Regions from separate parts of the Homo sapiens genome. Here regions 1, 3 and 4 are each reported to be linked to region 2. The links are microRNA targets in miRTarBase. Many come from high-throughput screens and were not tested one by one. Region 2 holds a microRNA gene; each other region holds the end of a gene's coding sequence.

The links. Region 2 holds the annotated microRNA hsa-miR-6862-5p (CGGGCAUGCUGGGAGAGACUUU, at 2,137-2,158, shown strand). A microRNA usually pairs through its seed, bases 2 to 8, with sites in the 3' UTR of a target mRNA and lowers its output. Matches are read on the target gene's strand: a 7mer-m8 pairs with bases 2 to 8, a 7mer-A1 pairs with bases 2 to 7 and ends in A, and an 8mer does both.
Region 1: miRTarBase lists SYNDIG1L as a target of hsa-miR-6862-5p. Seed matches in the 3' UTR shown: 8mer at 890-897 and 7mer-m8 at 1,864-1,870.
Region 3: miRTarBase lists GRM1 as a target of hsa-miR-6862-5p. Seed matches in the 3' UTR shown: 7mer-A1 at 2,358-2,364.
Region 4: miRTarBase lists CLPTM1 as a target of hsa-miR-6862-5p. Seed matches in the 3' UTR shown: 7mer-A1 at 741-747.

The regions. Positions count from the first base shown.
Region 1 is chr14:74,404,921-74,407,926 of GRCh38, reverse strand. SYNDIG1L (synapse differentiation inducing 1 like) reads left to right here. Exons shown (of 4, transcript NM_001105579.2): 3 at 1-78; 4 at 234-2,028. The coding sequence ends at 392. Among named protein-coding and RNA genes, the nearest start is that of SYNDIG1L, 20 kb to the left of the region's middle. RefSeq lists an enhancer at 288-789.
Region 2 is chr16:28,390,177-28,393,182 of GRCh38, reverse strand. It overlaps MIR6862-1 (microRNA 6862-1), which reads left to right and starts at 2,132; the gene lies at 2,132-2,201. EIF3CL (eukaryotic translation initiation factor 3 subunit C like) reads left to right here. Exons shown (of 21, transcript NM_001317857.2): 9 at 1,041-1,203; 10 at 1,328-1,431; 11 at 2,202-2,343; 12 at 2,538-2,663; 13 at 2,799-2,892.
Region 3 is chr6:146,434,513-146,437,518 of GRCh38, reverse strand. GRM1 (glutamate metabotropic receptor 1) reads right to left here. Exons shown (of 8, transcript NM_001278064.2): 8 at 1-3,006. The coding sequence ends at 2,723. Among named protein-coding and RNA genes, the nearest start is that of RAB32, 110 kb to the left of the region's middle.
Region 4 is chr19:44,992,482-44,995,487 of GRCh38, forward strand. CLPTM1 (CLPTM1 regulator of GABA type A receptor forward trafficking) reads left to right here. Exons shown (of 14, transcript NM_001294.4): 14 at 130-860. The coding sequence ends at 416. Among named protein-coding and RNA genes, the nearest start is that of RELB, 7.5 kb to the right of the region's middle.

The DNA.
Region 1 (3,006 bases), not on the chromosome of region 2:
CACCTGGGACTTACTCTCTTCTCCATGCTCTGCTGCTTCTGGCCACTGGGCATTGCTGCCTTCTACTTCTCCCAGGGGGTAAGAGCACCTGGGGCCCAGGTCCCTTCTCTGGCCCGTCACTCTACTGGAGGGCTTGGCATCCCGTCTGCAGGATGGGGTCAGGGGCCTGGCAGGCTGGGCTGTTTGGCTGGGTGTGGGGACACTCCTGTTCATCAGCATGTCTCTCTCCCTAGACCAGCAAGGCCATCTCCAAAGGGGACTTCCGCCTGGCCAGCACCACCTCCCGCCGGGCCCTCTTCCTAGCCACACTCGCCATCGCCGTGGGGGCCGGTCTCTACGTGGCTGTGGTGGTGGCTCTGGCAGCTTACATGTCCCAGAACGGTCATGGCTAGTAGCCAGTAGGGCCTGCATCCTGACTCCCCTGCCCACCTGAGGAAGCAGTGGGGCTTGGAGTTGCAGACCCTATGGAAAGGCCCGGCCCCTGAAGATGATCCCGTGAGAGTGGCTTGCTGAGGGGGAGACCCCCATTCCACAGCCTGCAGAGCTCAGCCTTCACTTCTGCTTGCCCGCTGCTCCCAGCCCCAGAGCAGGGCCCGGGGCGCCACTCTCTAACCCAGGCTACAGACGGGAAACAGAAGGCAGGGCTGCCCACCAGGCCATCCCAGCAGGGCCTAGCTCCATCCATTCTGCCCATTCCCTAGAGGATCTCCTGCCCTACAGCCAGCCCACCACCTACCCTGCCAACCTCCCCACAGAGAAAGAGCAGGAGGTTACAGGGAGAAAAGGGGGTGCCCAGAGCACAAGGGGACCCGTCCCAATCCTTTCAGCCCACAGGGATCTTCACCTGGGGACAGCCTGAGCTTCCCCCAACTCCACTGTCTGGCCCCATCATGCCCAGACCTCAGCAGGCCAAGAAGGAAATACGTGGAGGCAAGGGGGCCTCTTGCTGTCTCTGATTCTAGAGGGTGCTTATCTCTGCATGGGCTTGTGAGGCACTGTAGATTCTAGATAGGGAAGAGGAGCCTCGGTATGTAAACTCTGAACCAAGGGCAGGTTCTTGGAGCTTCTTCATGCGGGTGCAAAAGGCAGTTGCAATGACAGAGAATAGAGGGTCCTGAAATATTGCTGTACTACATGACTCTTCCTACTCTCCCCCCACTCCCCGCCCCTATCATCCTTTTCTGGGCTTTGCCTGGGGGTCCGTGAGCTGGTGCCATCACAAGTAGACTAGACCCAGAGAGTGCCCTCAGCTCACCAGCCACTGAGCGCACGGCCCTAGGTCCAGCCCTACAGAAAACGCAGCAAGGAGAGACCCTAGGGAGTAGTGAGTATAGATGAGGGAAGGGACTCAGGGAAGGAATGGCCTGCTGAGTAGTCAGCGGTGCTTAGGAAGGCTTCCTGGAGGAGGTATCCCTTGAGCAAGTCCTAGGATGAATAGAATTCATCTAAGGGATTTGGTCACATAACTCTTTGTATTTGTAGGCAGGGATGTGGCAGGAACCTTCCATGGGAAGCTTCCAGGCTGTTTGGATTCTGCCTGGAACATCTGGGCTGGAGCCAAACTACAGCCATTCCTAAGGGTTCTGCCAACTCAAGGAGGAACGTCACACCTGTCTCTCAAAGACCAATGATGTTTTCCCATCTCTGAATGCTAGGGGGTCAGTGGTGGGTACCTGGTTACCCCTGGGGCATCTTCACTGATATCTCTGCTCAGTGCCAGTCTCAACACCCTCAGCCACTAGGGCACATCCAGAATTTTAGAGACATCTCCAGGTAGGCGGGGGGCAGCACCAATGTGGGCAGGCCTGTCTGGACTCAAGCTACAGGCCCCTGCTGTGCATGATGTGGGAACCTGGTCATTCCCATGCCCCATCCAGAGCCCAGGGCTGTGGCTCCACCACTGAGCATCCCTTGTCCCACTGTCCTCCCCTGCCTCGGGCACTGCCCAGCCCTCCACTCCTGCATCACAGCAGTTTTAAGGTCCCATTATTGTACTGATTTATCCTTGTAATAAATGTTTCTGTAACACCTGGTGCCCTCTAGGTATCTTGCTGTGCTACCTGCCCCGCCTTTGCCTGAATCCCATTCTTCTCCAAGACTGACCTGTTGCTATGTCTGCTGCTCTGACCCCTGGCAGCCTGCGGAGAGGACAAGCCCACGTATGGGCCTTAGGAGGAGTGGTGGCCAGAGTGTCTGCACCATCCCAGGATTCCTCTGCTTGGAGTAGTCTGGCTGTAGAGTGATGGCCTGCATTTGGCTTGCTCTAGGCAAGCCAAAGCAAGATCCGTGCCTGGAAAAAAAGCCCTTCTAGGCTCAAGAGCCTTGGAGGACAGGGAGGAAGGGATGTGAGCCAAGGTGACTGAGGCTCCATGGAGCTGCCTGGAGCTACCAAGGGTGGATACAGGGTGTGAGGGGGCCAAGGAGTCCACGCCCCTGCTGCCTGCTCCTTCACCATCTCTTCCATCCCAGGAGCCGCTCCTGGACCATGTGGAGAGGAAGGCATCTCTGCCTGCCTCAGGCCCCAGCTCAGCACCAAATCTCCAATATCCTCTCAGACCTGAGCCCCCAGGAGCCTGCCTGGGCCAGCACAGGGACTGGCCTGGCCTCTAGGTCACTTGGATGGAGGGCCCTGGGGAGGCAGGTTATGCACATCCCATATCCACGTGTGCACCTACTTGTAAGACACAGCTGTGCACGTATGCACACACACATGCTGCATGGGTTGCGAACCCCAGAAACAGAGATTAGCCTGTGAGATGGATATGAGGGGCTGCTGTTGGGATAACGTTTGTAAAAGCATGGAGAGGGAGGCAGATCTGGGCAGAGGGAGAGGTCAGGCTGCAATGCAGTCCTGAATGACAGGCTGGGCCAACCCACAGGGGAGCCAGAGTTGACCCAAATTGGGGTGAAGAGCCAGGTCTTTCCACTCCCTCATTGACCAGTCATTAGATGTGGGCCACCCAGAAAGAGGGTGTGACCTCAGGCAAGGCAGTGGTCTTCAGCTGA
Region 2 (3,006 bases):
TAAACTTATAGACTATTCCAAAAACATATTCAAACCTTTTAAGCAGTGAAAATGAAATTTATTTATAAATGTTCAAATGGTAGATTATGGTTATTACATATGAGTTTTCAAAAATGTTGAGTCTTTCTGGAAAGATTTATTCTTCAGTATCTGTGCAAAGTTTGAAGTAATTTGTCTTTGCCATTTGGTTTGTATTTTGTTACATAAATACATACTCAAGTCTGGAGATGGTTTCAGGCAACATCCAGTAGCCTAAGACCATTTTAAGGTAGCTGGTGATCTTTTTCTGTTTTGTGGGGACCTTTTTTGTAATGAACATTTTTTTAAAATTCAGAATTTAGATTAATCGGTTGTCAAGAGAGGAGAGAAAGCGATAAAACAGTTTAGGAATAGTAAAAAAGAAAAAAATGTTTTTATATATTTGGGGGAACTGATTCATTGATTAGTTGGTCAGTCTGGAGAAAGCAGCTGGTATCAAAGAAAATAAGTTGTTTGTGGATTCTTTGGAAAACTGTAGATGTTAGCTTTGGAGCAAAATGACAGGTTGGTTTTTTTTTGTTTTGTTTTGTTTTGTTTTTTTGGAGACTGAGTCTTGCTCTGTCACCCCGGCTTAAGTGCAGTGGCATGATTGTGGCTCACTGCAGCCTTCTCTGCCTCCCAAGTTCAAGTGATTCTCGTGCCTCAGCCTCCTAAGTAGCTGGGACTACAGGCGTGCACCACCATGCCTGGCTAATTTTTGTACTTTTAGTAGAGATGGGGTTCCACCATGTTGCCCAGGCTGGTCTTGGATTCCTGACATCAAGTGATCTACCATGCTTAGCTGACAGGTTGTTTCTATTAATATGTCTACAGTGGCCTGGTTAGTACTCTGTCTTGTTAGAGATGGCTATGGTTATGGTTCACTGTGCCCTCTAGGTCATTGTTGTAGAGCATAACTTGGACCCAGGAGCTGCTGGAGGAAAAGAGGAAGTTGATGGGAGGAAGAAGCCTTAGAGGTGGGGAGGGGCTGATCTGTCATCTTCTCCCATGTCTGTCGGCAGGGCACCCACCACAGATGAGGACAAGAAGGCAGCCGAGAAGAAACGGGAGGACAAAGCTAAGAAGAAGCACGACAGGAAATCCAAGCGCCTGGATGAGGAGGAGGAGGAGGACAATGAAGGCGGGGAGTGGGAAAGGGTCCGGGGCGGAGTGCCGTTGGTTAAGGTGAGGGTTTCAGAGGTAAAATGAATTGGGGAACAGTTTGGGAGGACATAAAGGTCCCCTTGTGGGGAAAAGGCAAGGACAGTTTCCCGCTGGCATGTACATGACGGGATATGTACTGATACAGGAGAAGCCAAAAATGTTTGCCAAGGGAACTGAGATCACCCATGCTGTTGTTATCAAGAAACTGAATGAGATCCTACAGGCACGAGGCAAGAAGGGAACTGATCGGTAAGATTCGTGGGCCTGGGCAGTGGGATTGCAGGGTGGCAGAGGGTGGAGGTTGGGGGAAGGGATTGTTGGGAGGGTCTGTGTGTGGCTGTAGTAGAGGGAATTGTATGCTTGGGGCATCCCCGTCCATTATCTGCTGTTTACTCTTCTTGTGACTTAAAACCAATCACTTAACGTTTTGGATCTGTTTTCCCATCTATACAATGAGATAATGTTCTCCTCTTTTTTTTTTTTTTTTTTTTTTTGTTTGAGATGGAGTCTCGTTGTTGCCCAGGCTGGAGTGCACTGGCGCGATCTCGGCTCACTGCAACCTTTTTGCCTTCTGGGTTCAACCGATTCTCCTGCCTCAGCCTCCTGAGTAGCTGGGATTACAGGAACCCGCCACCATCCCTGGCTGATTTTGTACTTTTAGTAGAGATGGGGTTTCACCATGTCTCGAACTCCTGACTTCAAGTGATCCGCCTGCCTCAGCCTCCCAAAGTGCTGGGATTACAGGCATGAGCTACCACACCTGGCTTTTTTTTTTTTTAAGATTAAAAAAGTAAAAGAGTGTTTACCTTCTTTAGTTATTAGGTAACAGAGGATGGTGGTAGGTGTGAAGCATTTCACAGCATTCCAGGATGGTTGGGATTATTGTTGCTTCTGTTTGGAATTTATAAAGGAGAAGCAGGGATATGGGTGATGAGGAGGGCGCGTTATCCGAAGCGGGCATGCTGGGAGAGACTTTGTGATTTGTCTCCAAAGCCTCACCCAGCTCTCTGGCCCTCTAGTGCTGCCCAGATTGAGCTGCTGCAACTGCTGGTTCAGATTGCAGCGGAAAACAACCTGGGAGAGGGCGTCATTGTCAAGATCAAGTTCAATATCATCGCCTCTCTCTATGACTACAACCCCAACCTGGCAACCTACATGAAGGTGAGAGCAGTGAAGAGGCTCATCTCAGGGCATCGCTGGTGGGTTGGGGGAAGAAGGTACCTAGCATCTTAAGACTCAGGGGCTATGGAGGCAGTCTTGGTGGTGGAAGGCCCCATGATTCCTGCTGAAGGGGGAGGCATCCGCTTACTCTACCTTCACACCTCTGACTCTGATGTGGCCTGAAATCTTGGCAGCCAGAGATGTGGGGGAAGTGCCTGGACTGCATCAATGAGCTGATGGATATCCTGTTTGCAAATCCCAACATTTTTGTTGGAGAGAATATTCTGGAAGAGAGTGAGAACCTGCACAACGCTGACCAGGTAAAGGGAGGAGTTGGCAGGATAACTGGAGGTGTGTATTTTATGCTTTGGGAAGGCTCAGTGGGACCCGAGGGTTGAGGTTTGAGACTGAGATCTGGGCTAATTTGTTGACTCCTCCTTCGCCTTCCTTTTCAGCCACTGCGTGTCCGTGGCTGCATCCTAACTCTGGTGGAACGAATGGATGAAGAATTTACCAAAATAATGCAAAATACTGACCCTCACTCCCAAGGTGAGCCTGAGCAAGCGTGGGCTTTGCTGAGAGGAAAATTGTGGGGAATATTACTAGGTTTAGAGCTTTGTGAGGATTATACTAAGTCAGAGTGCTTGAAAAGCCAGCCTTTCA
Region 3 (3,006 bases), not on the chromosome of region 2:
TACAAGAAGCTGAACAACTTGTATCAGAACATACATCAAGGTGAAGAGTTTCGGCCCTCTTGGTATAGGGTATGTATGTGTACATCTCCAATTTTGAACAATGATGACATAAGGACTAATACTCTATTTATTCAGGAGACCCCATAATCAGGATAATAGTAGGCATTCAGAGTAATAAAGTGATCACAGTTGAATGAACGTGTTCACCAAAAGTCTTAGACCAACCTGATATCATCTTACACTTGAATATAAGTTGTTTCCTTATCTATCCTAATTTTTTAAAAATCTGAATGCACAAGCCCTGTGATATTAGGGATGTATATTAGTGGCATTAAGAGTAAAAAATAAGCATGATTCACTAATAAAGAGATCATATGCTTTCCCTCATGAATTTGTCAATTACTAAAAACCCATCTATTAATCACTGGAGCCATTGATTTTCCGCTCTCTGCTTTCTTACAATGAAAACATGGAACCAAAGTCCACATCTCAGTCATGAGATCTTTTCAATAAAGGTGTTTTAAAATAATTTTTAAAGGAAATGCAGTTCATTCTTGGTGTGGAACTGACTAAACTTGGCAATAGAATATGATGAAATATAAGTAATACAAGCCTCCAACATTGGAATGGATGTTAAATTCTGAACAAATGATGCAATGGATATTTAAAGATTCTAAGATGATTTTTGGCTGAGAAATCAGCAGCTTCAATATGAAGGAAGCATATTAAAATATGACTGAACATAAGGCATAAACAAAGATATTTAAGGGGGGTATAATTCATTCCACAAATAATAGAAGAAATCAAAACAGCAAGAAAAATCCTTTTATTGGTGGTAAAAAGGGATTGTAAAGATGGAGTAAGTGGATTACATGTCCATGGATATTACACAACAGCAAATAGCAGAAATAAAAAGTTATGACAGCCAAGACACAGGAATAAAAGTCCATGAACATAAAAATTAAAAGAAGGCAAAATGTGATTGATAAAGATTTTACAAATTATTAGCTGAGTTAGATGTTACTGTATGTTAGACACTCAAGTAGCTGTGGAAAATCTTTAAAAAAATGATATAACCTGGAATAATCTAAATGCTTTGTTCAATCTTATGTGTTAATAATGTGTGCAAGCTTATAAAATGTACCTTTTATTTTCACTCTCAGTTTTTGTGCACTTTTAATATAACAAATTTTCAAACCACTTCATTAATAACATATCTCCACATCAGAAAATATCTGAAAAATAAGTTCCATCTTAGAAGAAAAATGTCCATCCGAGCTGCATATGAAAACCTTGAGCCATAGTATTCAAACCGTCAAAGAGCTTCTGTAGATATTGATGACAATGATGTACAAAACATTATTGGAACATAAAAAATATATATAGTATATTCAAAAGACAATTTCTAATTGCAGTTAGATTGACTACTAGGTTGACATTGACCAGTCAATTTGACATTACATTGCACAAATTTTACGATCGCACATATACAAGGACACAGGAACACATTCACTCGCTAGTTACAAGGACTTCAGTGACAATAGGATAGAATTATTTGTCATTTAAACCAGTAATAGTTGCTATGAGTACACCATTAGATTCAAAGATGGATTTGTTTCTCTAATACGTAGGAGAAATAATGGCACCAAATTGTACATATACGCATCTTAGAAGTTCAACTTGTAGGTATTATTTGCTACAGTAAGTGGAAGGTAACAATTTTGTCACATGGTTTGTTCTTTAACTGAAGGTCAATGGAAAGCCCGCTTGGCACAAACACAAGTCAATCTACAAAAGGGTTTCTGCCACTCTCGTAACAATCTCTTGTTCCGGCCTTTTCCCCAAATCGCCAATAAGTGAATATGGAACATGAGAAGCTGATCATGTGTTTTTTTTTCAAAGTCTCATGCTGATGGATTGTTCTATTTCTAGCTCCTTCCTCCTGTAGCACGCCTGATGAAGCACTTTTTGGTGATAATTTTGCTCTTATTCCTGTTTTCCTAAATAAAGGGAATCTGCAGAGCAGCAGGGGGTCCATGCACCTTTCTTCAAGTGCAATCTCAAAGCTGGCACTGGATGGGTTGCAGTGGATGAAGAGAGACCCCTGTGCCGCTCCATTCCTGAGTCTCCTGAAGATGAGGAGTCTGTCAGCCCAGCGGGGAGAAGGGCTTCTGAGCAAGGAGCTGCTGTCCCATCATCCCATCATCCGTTTGGGATGGGTCTGGCCTGGGCCCTTCCCTTCCCCGCACCTGCTCTGTCTGGCTCCACCAGCTCACTCCGAATGCCATCAGGTGAACTCATGATCCGACTGGCATGTCCACGTGGGCTGTTCCTTGGCAAGCATGGCCCAGTGTGTGTGGGCATATATATATCTATGCACAATTGTGCAAAAGAGGACATTATGTTTGTGATGTCACTATTTGATTTGTGATAAAAGTTACATACCATATGGAATTGTGCTTTGTCAGAATTCCCTTTCTTCCCAGAGAAGGCTTCGAGTAATTCAAGAATCCGAATCCTGGCCTGGAACATTTTTTGCTTGGTGTCCTTCCCTCTCTTCCTACTTAAGGCAGCAGCAGCAGTAGCGGCAGCAGCAGCAGCGGTCTCCTGTCCTCCCGACGAGGCCCCCCACTCCCAGGCTTTTCCTCCCAGCTGTTTGCACATCTCTGGAGGTGTGGGAGATCTCTGGCTTGTCTTGCTTTTCTATGTGGACCCTTCCCCCTTACAGGGTGGAAGAGCTTTGCTTGTAGTCCCGCAGAATGACAGAGGCGTAGGATACGTTGGGAGGGGTGCAGAGCACCGACTCGGACACGGGGGAGCTGGGCACCGAGCTGCCCGAGGCCACCGAGTCGCGGAAAGGCGACGGAGGCGTCAGCGCAGGCGAATCATCCGGGGTCAGTTTGCTGGCCGCCTGCAGGTCCTCCTCCTCCTCTTCCAGTTCGTCTTCTTCCGTGTTCCCTTCCCGCTCGTGCTCATACACGTACTCCTGGAGGAGCTTAAACCTCT
Region 4 (3,006 bases), not on the chromosome of region 2:
CACGGCCCCAGATGGGGTGCTCAGTCTGAGGGGGCTCGGCCCCGCCCTTGCATCACGCCCTCTCCACCCAGGCCCACCTGGCTGTGGACGGGCCAGCCCGACCTCACACTGCCTCCCACCCCTCTCCAGATGTGGTTTTCTTCATCTACCTCTACCAACGGTGGATCTACCGCGTCGACCCCACCCGAGTCAACGAGTTTGGCATGAGTGGAGAAGACCCCACAGCTGCCGCCCCCGTGGCCGAGGTTCCCACAGCAGCAGGGGCCCTCACGCCCACACCTGCACCCACCACGACCACCGCCACCAGGGAGGAGGCCTCCACGTCCCTGCCCACCAAGCCCACCCAGGGGGCCAGCTCTGCCAGCGAGCCCCAGGAAGCCCCTCCAAAGCCAGCAGAGGACAAGAAAAAGGATTAGTCGAGACTGGTCCTCACCTGCTCCGGCTCCTGGCGACCACTACCCCTGCGTCCCGGCCCCCTCGCCTCCCCTCCCTGTCGCCCTTTCCCTGGACAGATCAGGCCGGGGCGGTGGGAGGCCCGCCTCAGGTCAGGGCCCAGCGTGTGATGTAGGGGCCGGGGCAGGCCAGGGTTTGTTTGTGGAGGCGCTGTCTGTCCCTCTGTCCCTCTGTGTTTCCAGCCATCTCGCCCTGCCAGCCCAGCACCACTGGGAATCATGGTGAAGCTGATGCAGCGTTGCCGAGGGGGTGGGTTGGGCGGGGGTGGGGCCGGGCCCCCCTACGGGATGCCCACGGCCGTTCATCATCTTGTCCCTCGTCCCCCTACCACACTCCCCCTCCTAGACCGCCGCCCTTTAACACAGTCTGGATTTAATAAATTCATATGGGTGTTTAACTTAAACTCAGCACTGCCCCTCCTCCTCGTGCCTTCCTTCCTCTGTTGCCTTGGACAACAGCTTCCAGCAGGGATGAGGTGGCTTTCCTGGGTCTGGGAGAGTGACCTGACACGGTACGGGACCTGTAAAGGTGGGGATTGTGACCTTGTGTCAAGAACCATACCTGGCCGGGCGCAGTGGCTCACACCTATAATCCCAACACTTTGGGAGGCTGAAGTGGATGGATCACTTGAGGTCAGGAGTTTGGGACCAGTCTGGCCAACATAGTGAAACCCTGTCTCTACTAAAAATACCAAAATTAATTGGGAATGCTGGCAGGCACCTGTAATCACAGATACTCGAGAGGCTGAGGCAGGAGAATCATTTGAACTCGGGAGGCGGAGGCTGCAGTGAGCCCAGATCACACACTGCACTCCAGCCTGGACAACACAGCAAGATTCCATCTCAAAAAAAAAAAAAAAAGCCATACCCGCCAGGCCAGGCCTCTTCCTCACTTCTCGCCCTCCCACCAGCCCTCTGAGATTTCATTAACTGGCCTCATTTCAGATTGCTGGGGAAGCTGCTTGCAGGGAGCTCGCTGCCCTATACCCTTTCCTGCCAGCTGCCCCTGCTGGGTGCAGGCTGGAGCCTGCCATGTGCCCGCTGAATGTCTCCTAACCCGACACCACCAGGCAGGGCCAAGTACAGCTTTCAGCCGGGTCGCCATGAGCACCTGCCACCCTGAGGCCTCAGCACAGCAGTTGGGGCACGCTAAATGTGTGCCATTGGCTTTTTGCGCTGACACCCACTCCCAATTTTGGGGAGCATGGGGGTGAAGGCTCAGCCTGCCTGAGTGGCACCTGGTTGGCTGGCTGTAGCACTCTGTGAGTGTTGGGGTGTCATATCACATCCCCGGGGCTGCCTGTGCTGACAACAGAGGTGGCATGAGTTGGATTTCCCATCCCAGCCCCTGGTGCTGGGACTCTTCGCCCACTGGATAGGTGAGCTGAGCGAGGCCTCTGTGTTCTGAGGGCTGGGGACCCTACATTCCCAGGTTTACTGTTTTGGGGGGTGGTCTCAGCAACACTTCTGGGATAGGGGGCCCAACGCTGAGGACCACACCAGGTTCCTTCAGGCTCCAGCTGCCACCCCATATTGCAGAGCCAGTCAGGGGATCCATGAGGCCCCAGGGAGACGATGGCACCCTCGGAGCCCCATACCACAGGTCCACAGGCCATGGCAGTCTCCCATCCCTCAGGGCAGCCATGGGTCTCCATTACCCGCCCCCCAACTCTATACCATTCCATGGATCCCCGGTGCCCTTGGAGGAACCCCAGCCTCTGCACCATGGCCTGACTGACAGGCTCCTAGGAACCCCGGAGGTACAGGGCTCTGCAGCCCCTTGAGACTGGTGGGCTCTCCAGCCACCTGGACTTCCTGGCCTCGTCACCCCTGGTTCTTCCTCCTCTCACAGCTCCACGCCCAAGCCTTTGACAAGGCCCATCAGCTACCCCCACAACTCCCTGGGGGTCTCACCTCTTCATTGGGACCACCTGCTCCACCTGCTCCATGCCCCTCCTTACCCTGTGGTGTTCTTGCTCAGTGTTCTGTCTGGTCCCCTGTCCCGGTCCTGCCCTCCCCACATCCCATTCACACTCTAGCTAGCAGCTAGAGGAAACTCTTTTTTTTCTTTGAGACAGAATCTTGCTCTGTTGCCCAGGCTGTAGTGTAGTGGTAGGATCTCAGCTCACTGCAACCTCTGCCTCCTGGGTTCAAGTGATTCTCCTGTCTCAGCCTCCTGAGTAGCTAGGATTACAGACATGCACCACCACGCTTGGCTAATTTTTTGTATTTTTAATAGAGACGGGATTTCGCCATGTTGGCCAGGCTGGTCTCGACCTCAAGCAATCTGCCCACCTCAGCCTCCCAAAGTGCTGGGATTACAGACATGAACCACCCTGCCCGGCCCAGCTAGAGGAAACTTTATAGTTTATTCTACTAAAGCACAAACCTGACCCTGCCCAGCCCTTGCTCAGAACCTACTGTGGGTGCACAGTGACCTCAGGAGAAAGCCCAGGCTCCTTACTGGGGACTGAGACCTTGGTGATGGGGACACTTATTAACCCCTGCATCCAGCCTGGTCTTCCCCCTACCTGGATCCTGCCCCCAGGCACAC